Homo sapiens: one gene and its partners. The protein of the gene in region 2 interacts with the protein of the main gene of each other region in a pairwise test. Each region holds a gene or a part of one and is shown on either strand. Other genes may lie near its edges. The genes, in order: NDEL1, TRAF3IP3, RIC3, WAC, CCDC138, MOB4 and EBAG9.

What was found.
Region 1: the proteins of TRAF3IP3 (region 2) and NDEL1 interact in binary tests that used the Homo sapiens proteins (3 or more experiments, as listed by UniProt).
Region 3: the proteins of TRAF3IP3 (region 2) and RIC3 interact in binary tests that used the Homo sapiens proteins (3 or more experiments, as listed by UniProt).
Region 4: the proteins of TRAF3IP3 (region 2) and WAC interact in binary tests that used the Homo sapiens proteins (3 or more experiments, as listed by UniProt).
Region 5: the proteins of TRAF3IP3 (region 2) and CCDC138 interact in binary tests that used the Homo sapiens proteins (3 or more experiments, as listed by UniProt).
Region 6: the proteins of TRAF3IP3 (region 2) and MOB4 interact in binary tests that used the Homo sapiens proteins (3 or more experiments, as listed by UniProt).
Region 7: the proteins of TRAF3IP3 (region 2) and EBAG9 interact in binary tests that used the Homo sapiens proteins (3 or more experiments, as listed by UniProt).

Annotation. Positions count from the first base shown.
Region 1 is NC_000017.11:8,449,384-8,452,883, reverse strand, and holds part of NDEL1 (nuclear distribution protein nudE-like 1), read right to left. Parts: intron 2,105-3,500; coding exon 1,931-2,104; intron 1-1,930. UniProt on the Homo sapiens protein: Required for organization of the cellular microtubule array and microtubule anchoring at the centrosome. May regulate microtubule organization at least in part by targeting the microtubule severing protein KATNA1 to the centrosome.
Region 2 is NC_000001.11:209,773,053-209,776,552, reverse strand, and holds part of TRAF3IP3 (TRAF3-interacting JNK-activating modulator), read right to left. Parts: intron 1,264-3,500; coding exon of another isoform or gene 1,205-1,263; coding exon 1,064-1,204; intron 980-1,063; coding exon of another isoform or gene 965-979; exon of another isoform or gene 955-964; coding exon 817-954; coding exon of another isoform or gene 429-816; intron 1-428. UniProt on the Homo sapiens protein: Adapter protein that plays essential roles in both innate and adaptive immunity. Plays a crucial role in the regulation of thymocyte development.
Region 3 is NC_000011.10:8,113,526-8,117,025, forward strand, and holds part of RIC3 (protein RIC-3 isoform a precursor), read right to left. Parts: intron 1-3,500. UniProt on the Homo sapiens protein: Molecular chaperone which facilitates proper subunit assembly and surface trafficking of alpha-7 (CHRNA7) and alpha-8 (CHRNA8) nicotinic acetylcholine receptors.
Region 4 is NC_000010.11:28,609,618-28,613,117, reverse strand, and holds part of WAC (WW domain-containing adapter protein with coiled-coil), read right to left. Parts: intron 2,420-3,500; coding exon 2,297-2,419; intron 1,864-2,296; exon of another isoform or gene 1,637-1,863; intron 1,345-1,636; coding exon 1,196-1,344; intron 1-1,195.
Region 5 is NC_000002.12:108,873,771-108,877,078, reverse strand, and holds the end of CCDC138 (coiled-coil domain-containing protein 138), read right to left. Parts: intron 992-3,308; coding exon 826-991; 3' UTR 501-825; downstream 1-500.
Region 6 is NC_000002.12:197,540,066-197,543,565, reverse strand, and holds part of MOB4 (MOB-like protein phocein), read right to left. Parts: intron 3,456-3,500; coding exon 3,413-3,455; intron 3,216-3,412; coding exon 3,129-3,215; intron 1-3,128. Other genes in the region: HSPE1-MOB4 protein, read right to left, coding at 3,129-3,215, 3,413-3,455.
Region 7 is NC_000008.11:109,557,173-109,560,672, reverse strand, and holds part of EBAG9 (receptor-binding cancer antigen expressed on SiSo cells), read right to left. Parts: intron 1-3,500. UniProt on the Homo sapiens protein: May participate in suppression of cell proliferation and induces apoptotic cell death through activation of interleukin-1-beta converting enzyme (ICE)-like proteases.

The DNA of each region.
Region 1 (3,500 bases), on a different chromosome or scaffold from region 2:
CCTGTAATCCCAGCTACTTGGGAGGCCAAGGCAGGAGAATCACTTGAACCCAGGAGGCGGAAGTTGCAATGAGCCAAGATCGCACCATTGCACTCTAGCCTGGGCAAAAAAAGCAAAACTCTGTCAAAAAAAAAAAAAAAAAAGAGAAGAAAAAGAAAAGAAAAGAAAGAAAGGAAGAAAGAAAAAGAAAGAAAGAGAAAGAAAGAAAGAAAGAGAAACAAACATTGTAAAAGGTAAAATACAATTAAAGACAGACCACTTCAGAAAGATCAGCTCTAAGATCTTACCGATTTCTCTGACCACCTGCTGCTGCTCACAACTCTGTGCTTTCTTGTAATGAAATTGCAGTGATCTAGTACACAGCAGCTTTTAGGTTAGCCAGTGAAAATTCATGCTATTGGTTCCAGCCTAAAAACATATCTATTAAGCAAATATTACTGCCATAGGGTTGGCACACCTCATGCCGTGCCACAGCAGGCTCCATGTCCTTTTGACTCCCCAAGTCCCTGAATGAAAACTCTAACGGGCTATTAAAAAAAAATGTGCACCACCTGTGGGTGTCACCGCACCTGAGGCTTTTCACTATTCTGATTCGTCTTCAATTAAAGGATTTTCAGATCTGCATAATTCTAATCAGTAACATAAAAGTAAAACTTTGTTAGTCCTCAGGTGTAATTGTGAAATCTTCAAATATACAAGCAGCTCTTCTGAAAAACTGACCGTGAGGGCTCCTGATGACTGCTAATAATCTATTGCCTGCCCTTTGTCCTCAGCAGTAAACCTAGCGCAATTAGTAACACCTTACAACCATACAGCACCTTCACATACCTTATCTGATATCATCTCGTAACAAGGCAAAGACAAGTTGAATTACCTACTCAAGGGTTACTGAGCACTTGAAATGTGGTTAATGTGACAAAGAAACTGAATTTTATATTTTATTTCATTTTAATATAAATTTAAATAGCCACATGGGCTGGTGACTATTGAGTAGCACAGACAGAGAGAGCTCACTGTACTAGTTGCCCACATAGCATTCTAAAAGATAAAACCCTATATTTTAAAAAGGGTGGGATGACAGCTTCAATATAGGGTGGAAAAAAAAAGCAAGGGGGGATGAGAGTAGCAGAAATATGAACTACGAGCTGCAAAATCTAAACAAATCTCAATTGAGAGCTTTAAGATTCCATTTTAAGGTTCTATCTAGTGGCTACTAGGTGGTTTTTCTGCTTATCCGGATTTTAAAAAAACACACTGGTTCATGGCAATGTGAGTATTCTGTATGTGCCAATCATCAATTACTCCGAACAATGCTTTTGAAAATGGCAGCTCCTGAAGCATGTAACAGAATGGGCATGTCCATCCAAGCCGGTCTTACATGAGTCTGAAAGATAACTTAATGATTCTCTGTACATTCTATGTAGAAAGGCCTCAGGTCTCCCATGATATGGAAAGTGGCAAAAGGAAGAAATAAAACTGTGTTTAAATATGATCCCCAAATTTGCATGTGACAAAGAGATGTGCACAAACACACACAAGCACACAATAGAAAAAAAAACTCAAAATGTTAATGGTGGGTGCCTGTAAGTGGTAAGATAACATGATTTTTATTTTCTTTTTCTGTGTTTTTAAAATTTTCTACCTAAACATACGGCTGTAATCACAAAATCTATTGCTATCATCAAAAAATAAACTTTCCTTAAAAACCTTTAACTTTTAAAAATCTCATCTTAAATGTAACCATCATTTCACTGTTTCCTATATATTAGTGGCCTAGGAAAACAATTCCTTCTTCTATTTCACATAGCACTAGACTTCACCAACTTTTAAACTAAAATTACTCTTTAAACCTTAGCAACCGCCTTCAGCAACAAACCCCCGTAAGCTGATCATCTAACACATCGCCTCAAAAAGAAAAGACATTACAAACCTTTCGGTGAAGGAAAAGTGTTCTCCGTTCCTTTGCCAACAGGGGTAGCTGGCAAAGAAAGTGATGCTTGGACGGCGGAGTCCATCTTTTCACAGTCTAGAGTTGGAGAGCTAGGAGCCGACTTTCTAGTTACTTCCTGTTGTCTTTCCCGAACTGCTAGTTCTTGCCTTAAATCTGTAAAATATTGCAAACAAGGGCAGGAATACTCACTAGAGGGAGCAAATATATCAAGCAAAGTGACATCTAAAATGTCATAAAGGTCTTCTTCCTAAATTACTATTTCTCAAAAATGAATTTCCTATTTAAGTATAACTTTCATTTCTAGGGGAATAAAAATGGCAAAACTACTGTCTAAATGATCTTTTAGAATTTAAAAATGCTATAACCTGAGAGAAGTTACTTATGCTTATATGCAAAAAGAAACAGTGCAGAGTCCACAGTACAATTCACACAAAAGTAAATATTCTTCACCAACTTATTTGCTTTTATTTTCAAATGATGTAGTTTTGGGGTTATTGCAAAATCAACTAAGTGCATTTTTGTAATTTTAAATGGGCTGGCATTAACTATTATCACTATGAAATATTTACTTTTAGAAAAGAAGTATTCAGAACGGTTTAAATTTTTCTCATGCTTTCAAATATTGAGCGTTTTTTTTTTTTTTTGAGACGGAGTCTCACTCTGTCGCCCAGGCTAGAGTGCAGTGACGCAATCTCGGCTCACTGCAACCTCCACCTCCTGGGTTCAAGCGATTCTCCTGCCTCAGCCTCCCAAGTAGCTGGGATTACAGGTGCCCGCCACCACACCCAGCTAATTTTTTTTTTTGAATTTTTAGTAGAGATGGGGTTTCACCATGTTGGTCAGGCTGGTCTCGAACTCCTAACCTCAAATGATCCACCCGCCTCAGCCTCCCAAAGTGCTAGAATTACAGGCGTGAGCCGCCACACCCAGCCAATGTCGAGTTTTTAACCCAAAATTAATGTTATCTTTTCCAATTATGCAATTTAACTTACAGAATATTTGCTTGTGTTAAAAAAGGAACAAAGTCATCCCCCTTTTGGGTATGTATCCAAAAGAATTCAAAACAGGATCTCAAAGAGATATTTGGACACCCATGTTCACAGCGGTATCATTCGCAATAGCAAGAGATGGGAGCAACTCGATGTCCATCCACAGATGAACAGATAAAGAAAATGAATACATACAATGGAGTATCATTCAGCCTTAAAAAAGAAGGAAATTTTGTCACATACTACACATGGATAAACCTTGAGGACATTATGCTAAATGCAATAAACCAGTCACAAATACTGTATAATCTCCCTTATATGAGGTATCTAAAGTAGCTGAACTCATAGAAAATAGAACTGTGGTTGCCAGGGGCTGAAGGGAAGGGAAAATGGGTAGTCACTATTCAATAGGTATAGTTTCAGTTTTGCAAGATGAAAAAGTTCTAAAAATTTGTTTACACAACAATTTGACTATACTTAACACTACTGGACTGTACACTTTAAAATGATTAAGAAGCCAGGCACAGTGGCTCACACCCATAATCCCAACATTTTGGGAG
Region 2 (3,500 bases):
AAAGGTTGAGCTGTGGATACCACGCAGAGTGACCAGCTGGGTTCACTCCTTTGATAAGACTCACATACTCTGTCTCTTATCAAGTGGGCTGTTCTGAGCCCTGCTTCAGGAAAATTACAAAGATCAGCTTTTGAGGTGGATCCTCAAAATTCCAAACCAGGTAAATAAATCTATGCAAAATAATAGCTAATATTTACTGAGTGTTTTTGTGTGCCAGGCATTGTGCTAAGTGCTTTACATGGATCATCTTACTTAATACTCAGAACCACCTTATGATGTAGGTACTATTATCCTCATTTTAGAGATGGGGAAACTGAGGCTTAGGACAGATTGAAGATGATGGAACCCTTGAGGATGCCAAGAATCTAATTGTAATTGCTAAATGTAATTGCTTAAAATACACATTGGCAGAAAGTGTTAATACTCACCTGTAAATAAATTAGTGACATTCTTTCTTTGCCAACAGTGGGCAATTCTGAACTGGATGCTTTTTTGGGATGGAGTTTGGAGAGTGGGTTGGGAGATGACATTAGTAGGCTGATGAATATTCCAGCCAGTTCTTTTCATTTGGGTGGTGATGGTGTCATTCCAATGAACGCTTAGTTCATTTGCATGAGCAATGCAGACATCCTTGCTAAACTCAAAATTAGATTTCAGAGCCAAAACAGTGAATTTGGTACAAAGTAGTGGTGACTGAGGAACTGAAAGCCAGATGCTGTCAGCTGCCTTTGGAGTCCCTAATCCAGAACAGCTTCTTTCATCACCATCCCTCCTCCCCATACCCTGTCTTCCCTCCCCACCCCCAGTGCCTGGTACCTGCAGTTTGGACTGAAGCACGTGGAGTTGGCTCTCCAGCTCCCTGTGCTGGGTCCCAAGGGTCCTCCAGTCCTCCTTCAGAGCCTCATACTGGCTCCTCCACTCTTCACACTTCTGCTCTGCCAGGGCCAGGGATCGCTGAGGGAGATCAGAGAGGAGAGGGCTCCAGGGAGTTGTGCAGCTGGCTCCCCTTGTTCCCCAAGCTGCCTGGAGTCCCCAGCCCCATGTCTATGTGGCATCCCCATACCTGTGTGCTCTGTAGTTGCTGCTCTGCATTCATTTTCTCCTCCAGCACTTTCTGCAGTGACTCCTTGGCCTTCTGCTCATAGCTGTTTTTCTGGTCTTCCATCTCCAGTAGTACTTTTTTCATTCCCCAAGGGGAGTATTTCTGTAAATTTGATGCAATTCAACAAATACACATTGAGCTTCTGTGTGCCAAATCCTGAGCTGGGATACAGAAATGAAAAGAAGTTGGTTCTTCCCCCAGGCAGAGATACCAGTAATCTAGTGAGCCATTTCTTTTAGGGTAGAGCTAGCAAGAAGAGTCCCTCAGGCAATGAGAGATGAGTGGAGGGCATAATAAACAGTGCCCTAGGCTTCCTGGGCATTATATCTGAGGCCTTCTGCAAGCTCTTGGAATCCAAGATGTCTAAACAGGACTCATCTTTCTAAACATGTTCTTTTTTCTTGGGGTTCCTATCTCAGTGACCAGAATCATCATCCATCCAGGCTTTTCCAAACCCTAAACCAGGGAGTCAATCTTCATTTTCTCTCTCACTTCCTCCCCCTCTAATCAGTTGGTCATTGAGCCTTGACAATTTCCTTAACAGCTCATATCTGTCTCCTCTCTATCCCTACTGCTGCTTCCTTAGTTCAGGCTCTAGTAGTAGTGTTATGTGGATTAATGCAACAGCCTCCCTTTCTTCAAATCTTGCCTCCCTTCAGTCCCTTTTCAGTTCTGCATTTAGAGGGTTCTTTCTAAAATGCAAATCTGATCTTGCCACTTCCTGTATAAATCTCTCCATGGATTCTCAGCATACTAAGAATCACATCCAAACTCCTTGTCATGGCTCCTCTTACACGCCTAGACTTTCATCCCATGCTACTTCCACCTAAGCTGAGATGTTTGCAGATCCCCCAGCACTCTGTTTTTTGGGGCTCTGCCTTTACCCATGTAGCTTCTTCTGCCTACAGCCAGTTAACTTCTACTAATACTCAAGATTCAGTCCAGTATCATCAGTTCTGATAAATTGACCAACTACCCCCATCCCACAATGTCTTATGGATTAGGTAGCTTTTCTTAGGGTTCATGGTGTTCACATAGTATCCCCTGCATGCCTCTATTATTCTACTCTATTGACTCATCTGTCTTTCATACTGGATTGTAAACTCCTTCAGGGAGGGAGCATACTGCTGCTGCTTTAAAAAAAAATCATTGTAGCTTCTTTACAATGCCTAATGAACTTCATGTTTTAAAATTAATACATTTGCATTATAAAATTCCTCCTGGCTGCAGGATTAAGGAGACACAAGCGCAGCTTTGCAAATTCACTGGGGGTCTTGCCTTCTCCCTTTCTTTCATCTTTATGCCCTGTGATTTCGGAGAAGGCAGGCAGATTTTATTGTCAATTCTGGATTACCTACTGTGTAAGCAGTAGACCAGATGACAACAATTTAGGGATCAATATGAAATCATTTCCATTTAGCTTTGGAATTGTCTGAAATTTTGGATTTAAATTTGAGTGGGTCTTATAGTTTTGGAACTTTCATTAAAAACCAGATCCAGGAATTAACCTGGTTGAGGTCATATGTAGGGGATGTCCCAGTTATTGGACATCCAATGACCATCCATGCTGGGCACTGGTTATGTGTTATTCCCTATTGAAAATGAATAGACTGGCATTCTGGATTATATATTAGTCTCCTGTGAACTTGGTTGGCATTATTTAGTCCTGACAAAGCAAGTTATACTGAAAAAATGAAAGTTGTGGACCAAGAAACTTATAGACTCCATAAACTCTCTTCCCCTGTAAGACGCCATCAATGTGGCCAGGACTGTCTTCTCTCTCTAACTCCAGATGGGAGAATTCTGCCTGTTTCACCCCATTCTCTGATTTGATATCTTCCCACCTGTCAGGTATCCATCACTTCTCAAATGTGAAAGCTGATTTCTTTCTATCTCTTATAAACCAAGATTAGGCCAATCAAGAGATTACTAATGCTGGAAAATGGTGTTACAGAAGAGCCAAGTAAAAGAGCTTTTACATTCTTCCAGGGGTTGCTAGAAAAAACAGAAAAAAGTTACCCATGGAATGAAAATAATTTTGTAAGACTTCATTATAACATCTAACTCATCTGTTCAAAGATTAGGATGCGTAAAGGGCTGTCTGGGTGATGTGAGTCTTTACCAAGGGCCTTCCCCTACAGTGTCAGGTATTCTCAAGGTTCCCCTGGAGCTGACAAACTGGTTAGTGCTGGGATTCCTCCAGGGTGCAAAGAGAAGGATACTGGGAGAAAGGGAGAGGAAGAAGGATGGAGACAGTGATCTAGTGAATTAGAGACTAAAGTGTAAATGGCCAAGCCAGAAATGGGTAAGTAGGAATGGGTGTGTTATTCTCTATCTGGTGGTGTTTCTCGAAAGTAAGATTGAGGTTCAAAAACATTCTTCTCATTTAATTCTAGAT
Region 3 (3,500 bases), on a different chromosome or scaffold from region 2:
GCCCAGTGCCAAATTGGCACCCCAATGGCACCCAAATTGGAGCCTGCAGACACAGGCTCCAGGCCTGCCCAGTGCCAGGCTAGTCTCTATGACCACCCCCACCTTCAGGTTGGCCCCTGCATTCCCACAATCCAGCAGACCCTGGGTCTAGCCCAACCCAGTAGACCCCAGCATTGGGCCGGCCCTCAGAACCCCAGGACTGCCCCTATGGACCTAGGTTCTAGGCTGAGGCCTGTGGCCCCAGGACCCAAGCCAGCCCTAATGAACCTAGCCTTCAGACACATCCATCAGACTCAGCCTCCAGGCCCATTTCAGTGGACCCGGGCACCAGGTTCATCCTAGCACCTGGCCAATCTCTGAAGACCCAGGCTCAAGGCCCAGTCCAGCCCCAGGTCAGCCCTTGTGGACCTAGGCTTTGGGATAGCCTCTCTGCACAAGATACAAGCACCAGGTCCATGCCTGAGGATCCAATCAACAGGTACACCCCAGTGGATCCAGGCTTCAACCCCAACCCCACGGACTCAACACCAGGCCACCCTGCCTAAGGACTCTACCAGCAAGTCTACCTGCAGATCACACCAAATGGCCTACCCAGAATCTCTGGGCAGGCTGACTGGTGAATGGCTTTTCCGGACAAAGCCAGAATGCAAAAACCATTCACCAGCAAAAGTCCCTGCTTCTTCAAATGCACAGATACCAATGCATAGCCATGAGGATCAAGAACAATCAAGGAAACATGTTGCCACCAATGAACAAAATAAAGCACCAGGAACAGACTCTAAAGAAATGAAGATACGGCCGGGCGTGATGGCTCACGCTTGTAATCTCACACACTTTAGGAGGCCAAGACAAATGGATCACCTGAGGTTAGGAGTTCAAAACCAACCTGGCCAACATGGTAAAATCCTATCTCTACTAAAAATACAAAAAATTAGCCGGGCGTGGTGGCAGGCGCCTGTAATTCCAGCTACTCAGGAGGCTGAGGCAGAAGAATCGCTTGAACCCAGGAGGCAGAGGTTCCAGTGAGCCAAGATCAAGCCATTGCACTCCAGCCTGGGCAACAAGAACAAAACTCCATCTCAAAAAAAAAAAAAGAAAGAAAGAAAGAAAAAGAAGACACATGAACTGCCTGACAAAGAATTCAAGATAACTGTTTTAAGGAAACTCAGCGAACTTCAAGAAAATACAGAGAAACAATTAAAGGAAACCAGGAAAACAATAAATAACTAAAACAAAAAATTTACGAGAGATTGAAATTATATTAAAAAAATCAAACAGAAATTCTACAGCTGAAAAATACGAGAATTGAAATGAAAAATGCAATAGAGAGTATCAACAGCAGAACTGATTGAGCAAAAGAATGAACCTTTGAATCTAAAGACAGATTATTTGACAATATACAGTTGGATGAGAAAAAAAGAATGAAAAGAAAGCAAGCTTATGGGATTTATGGGAACTGGAGTTCAAGAAGGAGGAGACGGACACAAAGGGATAGAAAGCTTAAAGAAATAATAGCAGAAAACTATACAAATCTGGGGAAAGTTATAAATATCTGGGTACAAGAAGGTCAAAAGTCTCCAATCAGACTGAACTCAAGTAAGACTATATCAAGAAGTATTATAATCAAACTATCAAAAATCAAAGACAGAGAGGATGCTGGAAGCAGCAAAAGAAAAAAAGTACATCACATTATAAGGGAGTTCTAACAGATTTATCAGCAGAAACCTTAAAGGCCAGAAAAGAGTGGGATAATATATTCAAAATGCTTACGGAAAACAAAAACAAAAACAAAAAAAAAAAAGGTCAACCAAGAATATTGTAGTTGGCAAAGCTCTCCTTCAGAAATGAGGAAAAAACAAAGACTCTGCCAGACAAAAGCTGAAGGAGCTTATCCCCACAAGATCTATCTTATAAAAAATGCTCAAGGGTGTTCTTCAAGTAGAGAGCAAGGGACACTATTCAGTAACACAAATATACATATATATATATATGAAAGTATAGGCTAGGTGCGGTGGCTAACGCCTGTAATCCCAGCACTTTGGGAGGCTGTGACAGGTGGATCACCTGAGGTCAGGAGTTCGAGACCAGCCTGACCAACATGGTGAAACTCCACCTCTACTAAAAATACAAAATTAGCTCGGCATGGTGGTGCATGCCTGTAATCCCAGCTACTTGGGAGGCTGAAATGAAAACTATAAAACATTGATGAAAGAAATTGAAGAAGACACAAATAAAATGAAAAGATGTCCCGTTTATGGATTGGAAGAATTGATACTGCTATAATGTCCATACTATACAAAGCAATCTACAGATTTAATACAATCCCTATCAAAATTTCAATGACAATTTTCACAGAAATAGAAGAAACAATTCTAAAATTCATATGGAACCACAAAAGACCCCAAATGGCCAAAGCAATTGTGAACAAAAAGAACAAAGCCAGAGGCATCACAGTACCTGATTCCCAAATCTACTACAAAGCTATAGTAATCAAAACAGTATGTTACTGGCATAAAAACAGACACACAGACTGATGGAACAGAATAAAAGCCCAGAAATAAATCCACATATTTATGGTCAATTTTTTTAAACAAAGATGCCAAAAAATAAAACACACACACACACAGGTCAAAGGACAAACACAAAAAGGTCAAAGGACAATCTCTTCAATAAATGGTGTGGGGAAACTAGATATCCACATGCAAAACAGTGAAATTAGACCCTCATCTCACACCTCACATTTACAAAAATCAACTCAAAATGCACTGAAGACTTAAACATAAGACCTGAAGCTGTAAAACTACTAGAAGAAAACCTAGGGAAAAAGCTCCATGACATTGGTCTGGACAATGATATTTTTGGATATGACACCAAAAGCCCATGCAACAAAAGTGAAAATAGACAAATGGGATTACTGAAAGTTTCTGTACAGCAAAGGAAACAACAGTAAAGAGACAATCTATGTAATGGGAGAAAATATTTGCAAACCATATATTTGATAATGGGTTAATATGCAAAATATATAAGGAACTCAACTCCACAGCAAAAGAAAACCCAATTTAAAAATGGGCAAAGGATATAAATAGACACTTCTCAAGAGAAGACAGAAAAATAGTCAACAGGCATATGAGAAAGTGCTCAACATCATTAAACATTCAAGAAATGAAAATTTAAACCACAATATCACCACATCTGTTAGAATGGCTATTATCAAAAAGACAAAAGGCAATAATAAGTGTCAGCAAGGATGTAGAGAAAAGGGAACCCTTATATACTATTGCTGGGAATGTAAACTAGTACAGTCACTATGGAAAACAGTATACTGGCTCCTCAACAAATTAAAAATAGAACTATCATATGATCCAGTAATCCCACTACTGGATATATATCCAAAAGATAAGAAATCAGTATGTCAAAAAGATATCTGCACTCCCATGTTCACTGCAGCATTATTCACAATAGCCACACTATAGCATCAATCTGAACATCCATGAATGGAT
Region 4 (3,500 bases), on a different chromosome or scaffold from region 2:
TTTTCAAATTATTTTTGTAGAGATGGGGTCTTGCTATATTGCCCAGGGCCTAATTCAATCCTCCTGCCTTGGCCTCCTAAGTGCTGTAATTATAGCTGTGAGCCACCGCGCCCAGCCTTCTTAAAGGAGTTGAAATGCTCAGTTTACAAGTGACTATAAAACCAATACTACCACTTATTTCACTTTTAACCACTATTTACTATACTCTTAAAATGCCACCCTGAAGACAAGTTCTAAGCTCCAAAAATAACATCTCTTTTGCCAAAACTCACATTTTAATTCTTTCCTCCTTAAAATACTGGCAAATGATAAGGAACTGCATAATAAACTAACAACTGTAACTTGGAATTTTAAAAATCAATCTAAATTGACCCTAAAACATGCAATGATCAATGGCCAAGGTAGGGAAGGGATGAACAAACGGGAAGACTTAAAAGCTGACCAACCACCTCTTTCAAGTTATATTTCAATGCATTTTTATTTTTGGGCTTCTGCTTAATATCTTACAAAGAATTATTTGGCATTAAAAAGTCTGAAACAGCCCACTGTTTCAAAACTACTCAAAAGAAATTCCCCCTACATTTACCATTTAGACCAGCAATTTTCTAACTGCACCTATGGAGCCAACCATGTAAGATTCTGCTGGGACAAATACAGGCAATATAAGCTTAGTAAAATGGGTCCCTGTATTCACAAACACCTAGGTTTCAAATTCTGACTCTACCACAAAAACTTAACTGAGAGTTTGATTTTCTCATCTATTAAATAAAGCAAGTGATTCTCACGATGTGAAAGCTAAACATACATTAAGTTCTTAGCACAGAAACTGCCTCATTTTTGAAATACAAATATGGAAAAGTCACTGGAAAACATGTTCATTCATGTCTTTTGGAGTTTGAAAATTCTACAAATATTAAGACTCAGTATATCCTCTTTATCTCACTCTCCATGTGACAAATCCCAAAACCATTAGGGAACAGACTCAGATGGTTTATTAAAGTAGCACAGATTCAAAGCCCCCCTCTATCCCTCAGTGAACTGAGAAATTCTAGGCTGCATCTACTATCATACCTGTCATTCATTCCACCACTACACCTCATTCTCAGAGGGCTTTTTCTATAACAGATTCTAAAATGTTATTGACTTTCCAAAAGTAAGTAGTTTCTTTTCCGAATGTCCCTCAAAGGTGACATACCTTTGGCTGTGATGAAACAGGAGGAGTACTGATCAAAGGTTTGATAGGGACTGTGTTAGTTTGAGGTGTGCTTATTCTTGGAGAAACATATGATCTTGGGGATGACGCATCAGATGTTAAAGACATCGGAGACTGATTAGATGGCTGGGCTGTAAAAGAGGGAAGCAATTAATTTTAAAGAAAAACAAAACAAAACAAAAAACTAAAGTCCTTTGTAATATATGTGGCAAAGATATTTGTATTACTCTAAACCCCCCCACCCCCATATTACCCAGAGAACACTTATTGGAATAAATCAGAATCTGACCTTCTCACTGGGCCACACTGACTAAGTGAGCTGTGTGTTCAGAGGTAAGCACACCCAGTGTGGCCCACTCTCCTTTATGTGGCTGGAACAGGAAGCTAGGCCTGAACCTAATCTCACATGGAAGGCCTCCTCACCATCCTTATTTCTTCTTTCTTATTCTACATTTAGGCCCAGGTATCCCACGCAGTCTCCTGCTCATGAGGCTAGCCAGAGGGTTGCAAGAGTCTTTGCACCATTATACTTCCATTCCAGACAAGGCATTCCTGCTGTTTATCAGCTTTCTGACAAAGTGACCCTTTCACTTCCCATTTGCTCCTATGTGTATCTCTCTCCATTTGGATACCTTCATGAAGAGGGATATCTAATTCAAGGCAGAAAATGAGCATTTCCATATTATCCAGTCAAAAAACATCTAACGTCAATCTGAACCAAACTTCAACTCTTCAAATACATGCAATGTTTCACAAAGATATATGGCACATCATAGTTTACTTTCAGCTTTGGCATAAAAAAACTCATTAATAACAAAGTCTGAATTAAATACTGTCTTAAATAATTACAGATTTGATGGCAATACCTTAAGACAAATGTCAAAGCTTGCTTCATCTAAAAAGAAAGGAAATAAAAATACTACTGTATATGCCAGTGTTACAAAAAAAACAAAATTATTGTAGCTAATCTCTTAAAAAACTAAAAAAAAAAATGAAAGAAAAAACTAAATACAAAAAAGGGCTATTAATTCCAAAACAAAATCAAGATGCCATTCTAGAGATATCTAAGATGAGTAAGAATACCTTGTGTAGAGAGCTGAGCAGCTTGAGAAATCAGAGACGTTATGTTGAAAGCAGATGGTCCAGCAGTAAGAAACTTATGAATTATAGACTGCAGTGAGGCTTGTGTCACAGCTGCTGTAAGAACTAAAAACATATTATTTCATACATTCATATAAAAACAAGAGGCTTATGTGGCATTAGTAACAACCTGACAAGGAAGAGAACTCACAAGAAACTGGAATATTTCAACCTAGAACTCTCAAAATAAAAGCCTACTAGATAGGAGTAATACAATGGGTCCCAAATTTGAAATGATCTGAGGCAGAGAAAAAGAAACTTAATGGGTTTACAATAAAGGTAAACCAACAGAGTTTCTTTTACACTAATTAAGATGATCACCTGAACAAAGTCTCTCTACAAAATTTAACGAGTGTTCACAGGAACTTCCAATTATGTCAGAAACCTATTCATATGTGAGTGTTCAGTATGTTATATGGAATTAACTGGATAAACAACTGCTATTTCATGTGATTGCCCTTTTAGACAAGCTGGCCATTCAAATCCTATATCAAGATCCACCCTAATAAATCTAAAAATGGATACAAAAAAGGGAGTATTGGCCGGACATGGTAGCTCACACCCAGCACTTTGGGAGGCTGAGGCAGGTGGATCGCCTAAGGTTAGGAGTTCAAGAGCAGCCTGCCCAACATAGTGAAACCCTGTCTCTACTAAAAATACAAAAAATTAGCTGGGCATAGTGGCAGGTGCCTGTAATCCCAGCTACTAGGGAGGCTGAGGCAGGAGAATCGCTTGAACCTGGGAGGCAGAGGTTGCAGTGAGCCGGGATTGCACCACTGCACTCCAGCCTGGGCAACAAGAGCAAAAACTCCATCTCAAAAAAAAAAAAAAAAAAAAAGTATTTAGGAATACCATGTATTTTTGATGTGTAAGATATTTTATTATTGACATTAACTATTATTTCTTCAACTATTTATTTTGGAGACAGGGTTGTGCAATCACAGCTTACCATAGCCTTCACCTTCCAGGCTTAAGTTATTCTCCCACCTCAGCCTCCCAAGTAGCTGGAACTACAGGCGTTCACCACCACACCTGGCTAAGTTTTTGTATTTTTAGTAGAGATGGGGTTCACCATGTTGCCCAGGCTGGTCTGGGCTTAAGTGGCCCACCAGCCTCAGCAAGTGCTGGAATTACAGGCATGAGCCAC
Region 5 (3,308 bases), on a different chromosome or scaffold from region 2:
TGAAGAGGCCCAATAGTTTCTTGAAAATTTCTTCTAACTCCTGAAACTGAGATTATACACTGATCATATATGATTTTATGACTCTTTAAAACAATGTTTCTCAGTATCCTGTCCTAAGTCCCAAGTTTTACCACCTTTACTTCACCCAGACCTGTGGCCACTTTACTCATCTTTGGCTATACCAAGAGATATCTCTGGTAACAGGACGATTATTTTTGTTTACCTTTCAATGTTTAAAAAATGTCTTGCCTTGTATATACATGCTCCAGTAATAATTATTTTGAAAACAAAAGTTTTTAAACCTGTGAACAGCATAATAAAAAACTTTTTCTATCCCACAAAGAGCACAATAAAAAAAAAATCAACATCTGTTAATCTAGGATACAGTATATAGAAAAGTTATGGTATCAAGATGATAGTTTAAAGATATACATTTTTGCTTTCAAAAGCAAGGATTCTAATATATTAGGAAAATAGAAAGACAGTATTATTTAACCCTGTTCTCACATAAGCACCAATTTTATTCCAAATAATCACATAATTTTAAGAAATAATTTTCCTAATATATTTTTACAAAAAGTCACTTCAGTGTCATACATTCTAGAAACGCCATCTTGTATATTAGTATTACCTTACCTGAACTGAAACATTCCAAAAGTTCCAATACCTTCTACAGATTTCATTTTTACAGTTCAAAAAAATTATTTATTTTTCATGATAAATGATGCTACTGATAACTTTACTTGGTAGAATTGTAGTTACTTTGGTAATTTCTACATGTTTATAAATAAGCACCACATATACTATATTAAAAAATTAGCCAGTCTAAGGGCTTGCACTGGAGACCAGGGAGTTACATTTTGTTAAACCCAGATTGAACAGAGTTGAATTTAGATTAATACAGAGAAATGCATGCTCTGGGTTTGTTGTCCTTTGTATTTCTTGAAGCATCAGATGAATCGTAAAAAGTTCAAAGAGCTTCTTATTACTCCTGTAAAAAAAATGAATACATTATTTAATTACACATACTTAGAGAGTTTATCTGCAATGACACTGACAGATAATTTATGTGTAAACATGAGGAAATGGCATCTGTTTTTAAAAACAGTGGAGAAAATAGGCAACTAAAAGATTAGAATGCTGAAACAAACAAAATAGGTTTTATGAGATAAACCTGAAGCAGAAAACCACTGGGGAAAAAAGAAAACTTTTTTTTCTTTTGAGATAAGGTCTTATTCTGGCACCCAGGTGGAGTGCAGTGGCATGAACACAGCTTACTGCAGCCTCAACCTCCCCAGCTCAAGCAATCCTCCCATCTCAGCCTCCCAAGTAGCTAGGACTACAGGCGCACATCACCAAACCTGGCTAATTTTGTTTATTTTTTGTAGAGACAGGGTGTCACTATGTTGCTAAGGCTGGTCTTGAACTTCTGGGCTCAGGCGATCCTCCTTCCTTGGCCTCCCAAAGTGCTGAGACTACAGATGTGAACCACTGTGCCCAGCCTGGAACCATTTTACAACCCTGAAAATTGCACCCTATTCACTATTAGAGAGCGTGAGAATTTTTTTTTTCACAGCTAGCAAAACAGACAAACATTTGATCATCCTATTTTGAGTAAGCAGGCCTTTTTAAAGTGGCAGAATATTGGTTTATCTTTTGACTTGGCTATAGAATACTTGTTCAACCATCCTCTTTCTAATAACCTGTCAGTAATTTCATTTCAATCATTAAGAATTTGTTTCTTTTTTTTTTTTTTTTTATTATACTTTAAGTTTTAGGGTACATGTGCACATTGTGCAGGTTAGTTACATATGTATACGTGTTTCTTATTTCCTTGTCTAGCTTTGTTTCTTATTTCCTTGTCTAGCTTTGTTTCTTATTTCCTTGTCTAGTTATTTGACAAACTCTCTTGAGAGAGTTTGTCCTAATACAAACTCTTATGTACTATCCTAATACAAAAGGATTTACATCTTTTGTGGTCTTAAAGATTTATTTTAAGATCTGCTTGAGCATCAACTATTCCCAGTCTTCTTGTTCAAGCTTTGTTTTTTTATCTAAGTCTAAAATGAACCTAAGCTACAAACACATCATGAATAGTAAAACATTTTGGCCCAAGGTTATACTTGCACTTTGGGACTACCTTTAAAAAAAAAAAATCCCATGAATTAAGAAGTAAAAAAGAATTAAATCTAAGTAATGTTATTGCAGCTTCATGGCACCATAAGGTAACTGCAATAGGCCTTACTAGGAATTTACTGAAATCAAGAGAATCACGGTATAGTCTGCAAGAAAAGGAAGACAGTAAATTGATAAATTCAGCGCTAGTAACTTGGTCAGTCAAATTATAAGGTTATAATTTGACAATAATTTATTACAATCCTCTACTAGGCATGTTACCAAATAGAACATATGGATCTCTTAATCCCTATCTACAAATAATTTCAAGATGCATTGCATTTACTACTCAAGCATATGGAAGCCTGGTAAAATCTAAATTCTCTACCACGGGAATCATGGATGAGGGGATGAGGCCAGGAGGAGAAGAGCTGAACCTAAATCAAAATAAAAATGTTACTGTTATACAAATGAGTTGAGATAGAAGGTGTCCAGATTTGCCTCAAAGGAAACACTACAGCATACCAAGAATCACGGAAAATACAACTTAAAATCGATGTCCTTATTTATAGTTTAGTAACTGGTTATACAAGTTTCTGAGTCAGGAGAAAGATGAGGAAACAAAGCCCATGATTCTCATAAAAAAATCCAAATTAGTGGCAGTAGGCAGTCCATAAGAGTTTACTAAAATAAATCCCGTTACCAAAGTAATTTCAAATCTCTTCTGCTTGCTTCATTCTCATTCCCTAAATTCACTTTAGTACATCAATAAGGATTTGCAAAATACTTTTATCTTTTTATTTTCACCTGTGGTATTACAGAATACCAGTATGCAAGAATTTATTCTGATATTATTACTTGGTTGCTAAAAACTGCTCTTACTTTTATATGAAGCATTTAAAGTTCATTTATCTGAAATGAGCTATAGAAACAACTAGATGTTCTGAGATCAGAACTCTAATTCTAGTCTGTCACTAAATATGTGGTCTTAGATCAGCGTTAGTATTTATGAATCTTAATTTTCTACATCTGTATAATGGAAATTTTTTTTTAATAATCAAAGCTTAAGTAGCATGGGATTCAGAAAGGTCTAAATCAAGCTTGTCCAACCTGCAGCCCATGGGCTGCATGCGGCCCAGGATGGCTTTGAATGTGGCCCAACACAAATTTGTAAGCTTTCTGAAAACACTATG
Region 6 (3,500 bases), on a different chromosome or scaffold from region 2:
GGTTCATCTGTGTTGTAGCATGTATCAGAACTTCATTCCCTTTCATGGTTTTATAATATTTCATTGTATGTCCATGCTACATTTTGTTTCTCCATTCTCACGGTGGTTTTTTTTTTTCCCTTATCAAGCATGGTTGTGGAGGAGACAATGTTAATCAGCATAACAATAACGCACAACCCTCGCACCAACTGTCTGTGGTTTTGAGATGTGCCTTAATAACTAATGTTGAGCATCTTTTCATGTGCTTACTGGCCATTTCTGAATCTTTTTTTGAGACATGGTCTCTCTCTGTCACATAGGCTGGAGTGTAGTGGTGTGATCTTTGCTTACTTCAACCTTGAGTCCTTGGGCTCAGGTGATTCTCCCACCTCAGCCTCCCTAGTAGCTGGGACTACATGTGCACACCCATCACACTCAGCTAATTTTTTGTATTTTTAGTAGAGATGGGGTTTCACCATGTTGGCTAGGCTGGTCTCGAACTCCTGACCTCAGGTGACCCACCTGCCTCGGCCTCCCAAAGTGCTGGGATTACAGGCGTTACTGTCTTCGAAATCCAGTATTTATTTTGTGTTTACAGCATATTTCAATTTTGACTACCCACATTTCAAGTGCTACACAGCTACATGGGGCTCATGGGTTACCACATCACTGTATCTTTAGACCTTTAACTGGTTTCTGAATTTTTAATTTGGATGACATTTTGCATTGTTTTTAGCTGCCTTCCCTTCACCTTCCCCCAGTTAATTCTCAGGTAACTATTCCTACTCTGTAACAGTTATAACAGCAAAAAATGGCAAAATATAGCAGGTTACAAAATACTATGTAATGGTGTTTACAAATTTTTATGTATTATATTTTTCCAAATATATAATCATAATGCTACTGCAAGTGATCACAATCAGCATGTGACTGTGAGGGCTTGTAGACAGTAAGTTATAATGTTTGTCGCCTAGAAGCACTATTTGTATAATTTACTCTATATGCTGAATGCCTCTCTTTAATTCTCAAGGATACTGAATAAATGATTATTGGTGCTAAGTATTCTGCTGCTCCCACTTCAGAATCTCCCTAGTGATTTTAATCCATGAGAGCAATTTTCTTAGCTTAGTTTGTCAGTTCCTATAGTTTCCTGACTAAGCAGTTATTCAAAAACAGTTCAGAAAGTGTCCTTTCAAATTGTTCTTTTGTTTGTATTTTTACAGTAACTCCACTCAATATAACTACCACTTGGAAATCCTACTATCACCCTCCCTTGACACATGGCCAGTTCAACAGATCTGGACTTCAGCAAGCAATGCTGCAATTCTAAGACTCAATTTACAGGTCTTAATGCTAATGACTATCCTGTCATTTAATATTAATCAAGAAAGAAGTGGATATGAGAATGACAGTATATTTAAGAGTCATAACACATCACAAACTGGATATCACTTCCACTCTAAAGAAAGAATAATACATCATTACTATTTGCCAAAACAAAACTAGCCTTGATTCAGCCTTCTTGATTCAGTTTCCTAATTGCAATAATCACATCATTCACTACGTTAAGTAGCCAACTTCAGTGAATTATCAATGAAACCACTATGTGGATTTTCCCAGATGTAGACAGATACAATCTTTTTATTTTTTTTATTTTTTATTTTTTTTGAGACGGAGTCTCGCTCTGTCGCCCAGGCTGGAGTGCAGTGGCGGGATCTCGGCTCACTGCAAGCTCCGCCTCCTGGGTTCACGCCATTCTCCTGCCTCAGCCTCCCAAGTAGCTGGGACTACAGGCGCCCGCCACTACGCCCGGCTAATTTTTTGTATTTTTAATAGAGACGGGGTTTCACCGTTTTAGCCGGGATGGTCTCGATCTCCTGACCTCGTGATCCGCCCGCCTCGGCCTCCCAAAGTGCTGGGATTACAGGCGTGAGCCACCGCGCCCGGCCGACAGATACAATCTTAATACTGCTTCAATTAATTAACATAAAAATGTGACATCCTGAATGAAACCAGTCTTCCAAATAAGTACTATTCTCTTAGGTATCAAATACTCCTTATTTTGGAGCATTTGTCCTTTTTGAAACAAAAAACATCAGATATTGATTTTGCAACTAGGGCCTCACTTGTCTTCAAGCCTTAGAAGTCTATCAATATAATGACCACTTCAAGGTCTATGATTCTACAGAATTGGCCTAACCCAATATCCCCAGTGAGTCAGTGTCAAGTAAAAAGTAATTATAACAGATTAAATGGGAATACAGATTAAGGGAAAAGCAATGCATAAACAACCCAGATGTAAAGACCATTTTGGAGACAACTAAGGAAAAGTATACTGGGTATCAGATGATATGAAGAAATTTTTTAAATAAGAAAAAGTACAGTAGGCCAGGCACAGTGGTTCACACCTGTAATCCCAGCACTTTGGGAGACTGAGGTGGGCAGATTACTTGAGGTCAGGAGTTTGAGACCAGGCTTGCCAATATAGCAAAACCCCATCTCTACTAAAAATATAAAAATTAGCCCGGCATGATAGCGCATGCCTGTAATCTCAGCCACTTGGGAGGTTGATGCATGAGAATCTCCTGAATCCGGAGACAGAGGTTGCAGCGAACCGAGATCATACCACTGCACTCCAGCCTGGACAACGGAGTAAGAATCCATCTCAAAAAAAAAAAAGAGCAAAACAAAAAACTGCTACTGCCTATAGTCTTACCTTGACAAAAACTAAATAAGGAGAAAAACAACATGAATATTTAAAAGCTCAAAAGTAACATTTCTACTTAAACTAGGCATCAGAGTAATCAATAGTTCTTCCTATCAAAAGAAATAATCTGAACAAAAACCTAAACAGGCGTATCTCAATCATTACACAGTAGATATCAGCACAATGTGACAGATGTTAATCCGTAATAGCCAGTGGATCATGAAGTGAGTTCTAGCCCATGTAATTGCCCAATTATGAAAAATGATGCTTATCATAAGAAATCCTAAAATAGCACTGCAGTAACAACTTCACAACAAGCAACTCAAAATGAAATAGCAAAATGAACAGTGAACTAAAAACCCTAAAAACTTGTCTAACATTGTCTTGAGAGAGATTTAGGCTATAATAATTTTATTAGTTACTCTATTTCATAAATCCTCACCTCTTTTGGAGTTTTATGAGCTGCACAAAGAAAAATCCATTGTTCAGTTGCTGTCATTTGAGTGCAAGTATCTGGATGGCATTCACTCTGTTAAAAATAATTATATTTCTTAATATGTAAAATAATAATGAAAAAGCTTATCATTTAGGTTACTATATTTCCATAATAAATTCTAGAAGAAAGTTAGAAATGTGGATACGTTTTTGTAAGCACATTAAGTTATAAAAACAGAGAAAAAAAAATCAGAACTTTCAATTATAACTTTGACTTAAAGAAAATATTACCTGAAGTTTGACAGCAAGTCCATTTAGCTCAAGGCAGAACTGCCTGAAAATGCAAATACATAAATAAAAAGTCATATCTATTCTTCAC
Region 7 (3,500 bases), on a different chromosome or scaffold from region 2:
GCTTGCCTAGAACTGATGTATGACTTTCAGTGTTCAACAGTCCTAGGCAAGGCCAGCTTTCTTCTTTATGTTTCATGGGATACTCTCTTAAATTCTCTTCTTTGCTGTACTTTATTTTGGAAGGAACAAGAACAGAACATGTCTTTTGTTTCTTTCTCTCCTCAGTAAGATGAGGGAGCTGGGGATAGAGTGACAAGAAACTGACTGATCCCAGACTGAATTAGAAATCCTTGACTGGACTAATCTGTGCTGAGAAGAACTGCGAGCTGAAGTTCAAAAACTAGCACAGTCATTCTTCATTTAAGCATATGTAACTTACTGGAGATTTTTTATTGGCACTTACTGTCTCAATCCTAGGCAAAAATGACAAATCATGCAAAATTTATCTTTAATGAAATACTTCTAGGTCATGCTTCCTTTTCCCAGTCTTTCTTACCTGGTATCATCTACTGGTCCCTACCTCTATTTCCCAAGCCAGACCTCTAAAAGTTCACTGTTTTCTTTCAATAACCAATGAAAATGGTCATGCTGGACTGTTTAGGTAGGTGTGGAAGTGACTGTGTGTAAAATAACTGGTACCAATCTGTGAACACATTTATTTAATATCATATTGTTTTAAATACTTACCCCTAAAAATGAAATAGAATGTTTTGAGTTTTCTTCTCCTGAGAATATATGTAATACCATACTCTGTTAAAAATTCTTAAAATATTTCTAATTATTTAATATACATTTCTGAAAGGAGGATTTTTAAAGCTACTGAAACAAAGTGCAAATGACAGCCTTGAAAAGTACCAAGTTATCCTCTTGACCGCAGTAGGTAGAAATCCTGCCTTTTCTTCTCCCTTTTTTTTTTTAGGAATCAGCGTTTCACTTTGTTGCCCAGGCTGGAGTGCATGGTGTGATCATGGTTCACTGCAGCTTCAAACTCCCGGGCTCAAGGGATCCTCCCACCTCGGCTGCCCTAGTAGCTGGGACTATAGGCACATGCCACCACACCTGGCTGATTGTTTTTTACATTTTTTTAGAGATGAGGTCTAGCTATGTTGCTCAGGTTGGTCTTGAACTCCTGAACTCAAGTGATCCTCCTGCCTCAATTTCCCAAATTGCTGGGATTACAAGTGTGAGCCACTGCACTCGGCTGGCTTTCTTTTCTATCTTTACTAATTTGACAAGATTTAAAATTGTATCTTGTTATTTTACTTTGTTTTGTTTGAGACAAGGTCTCACTCTGTCACCTAGGCTGGAGTGTAGTGGTGTGATCACAGCTCACGGCAGCCTCGACCTCTTGGGTTCAAGCAATCCTCTTACCCCAGTCCCTCCCAAGTAGCGAGGACTACAGGCACGCACCACCACACCCAGCTAACTTTTTAATTTTTGTAGAGGGGGGATTTCGCCATGTTGCCTAGGCTGGTCTCGAATTCCTGAGCTCAAGTGACCTGCCCGCCTTGGCCTCCCAAAGTGCTGAGATTACAGGCATGTAACACCTCACTGGGCCTACTTTGAGCACTAATAAGATCAAGCTTTTCTTCAAATTAGGTTATGTCTATTTCTTATTTGTAAATTTCCCATTCATATTATCTATTCTTCCACTAAAGTATTTGACTGTTAGAGTACATAAAATATTTAGATTTTTTTTAAAAAGTAAAACTATAGAGACCATTAAAAAGGGTGGTATCTGATCCTTTAGTAGAGATGGCCTTAGTAAAAAGGAAAAGGGGGAAACCATTGATAGATTTGTCTACATAAAAACTAAATACACCTGCCCAACAAAAATATCCAAACCAATTAACAAACTAAAAAAGTATAAAACATGACATTTATCTTTGGTATAAAAGAACTCTCACAACAATACGAATGATGAATTCTAGAAAAGAATAAAATGTGTAGTTTAAAAGAAGAATCTAATTTGTAGAATGAATGGTAAGATATTTTTGGTATAGAAAACAAAGTCCAATAGGTTACCATCCTCTCCTATGCAATGCCCCTTTATTCTGTCTGCTTGGGAGGAAAATACGTGGAAATAGCAGTGGAGACATTCTCCATCTACCCTATTTACCCCTTCTCAACTCTGTAAGTAGTTGTATATTTAAAACTTTACAATGAGCTATGATAGTATTATAATTATATTTAGGTGGCAAATATTGCTAATTCAGTGGGTGGGATTAAAGCATTTCACCAATATGGATCAAACATTTATGAATAAAATTTAATTTTGAGATATATAAAATAAAAAACATTATAATGCTATGTTATTCAGCTAAGTATTTATGGTGTTATGTGTTCATAGCATCGTGTAACTGCATAGGAATTATCAAAGTTTGTAATTATATTGACGTGTGTGATCATTCATTTAATATCATGTCTCCCCTACTAGAATGCATTTTTCTGAGGCAAAGACCCTTTAATGCCACAGGGCCTGGCTTTAGTAAAAACAGTGTTTTTACTCAATGAATTAAAAACATACATATACATGGGTCCCCTGGGAAGAGGGACCTCAGAAGCAACTGTGCAGTTTAAACAAACAAATAAAATACATAGATTGACAGACAGATGTAATTTAAAAATATGTCCACAAATTCTTTGACATTCCTTCCTTCAAGAGGTGGAGGCTTGCATGTGGGCTGGATTTAGTGGCTTCTAATGAAATAACATGGAAGTGACAGTGTATCACTTATAAAACCACATCACAAAAAGGCATTGTGGTGTCACCCTCACCCATGAGCAAGTGCTCTCACCGTCTTATAACTTACTGGGAAAATCAGGAGTTACATCATAAAGAAATTCAAGCAGCTCCTTGGAGAGGTGCACAGCAAGGAACTGAGGCTTTGTGCAAACAAATAGCATTAATTTGTCAGGTGTAGAAGTGAGCTGTCTTTGAAATGAATCCTTCGACCACAATCAAGCCTTCAGATGATTGTAGCCCCAACCCAATGACTTGTCTGCAAACTCATGAGAAATTCTGAGTTAGAACCACCCAGTTTAGTCACCTGGATTCCCAATCCACAGAAACTGTGTTACATTAATATTTGTAATTATTTTAAGTCACTGAATTTGGAGTTGTTACACAACAACAGATAATATAATCAATCAATCAAAGCATGCTTAAAGCTTAGGTAGGGAGGGGTCTGGACATTTGTGCTTTTAAAAAACCTCCAAAGCTGATTCTGATATGCTCCCAAGGTTGAGAACCTCAGCTGTCTACTTGTTTCATAAATTTTTCCTTTAAAAAGTTTCATTTAAGTCAAACCGTTTAAAATTAAGTCATACTTTGAATGAAAATACACTCTATGAAGAAAACAATTCATAACTCACTTTAAAATAATCTACCATTAGGGTTAATCTCTCATTTTAATGGTAATCTCTCTGATGTTTATATTTTTAAATAACATTGTATCTCTATCTTTCATGTGTACAATGAGACCTTGATCTTAGTATCTAAGGTAATTTACAATCTCATAAAAGGTTAGGATTGGTAAAACTCCAGATTAACTTCTATC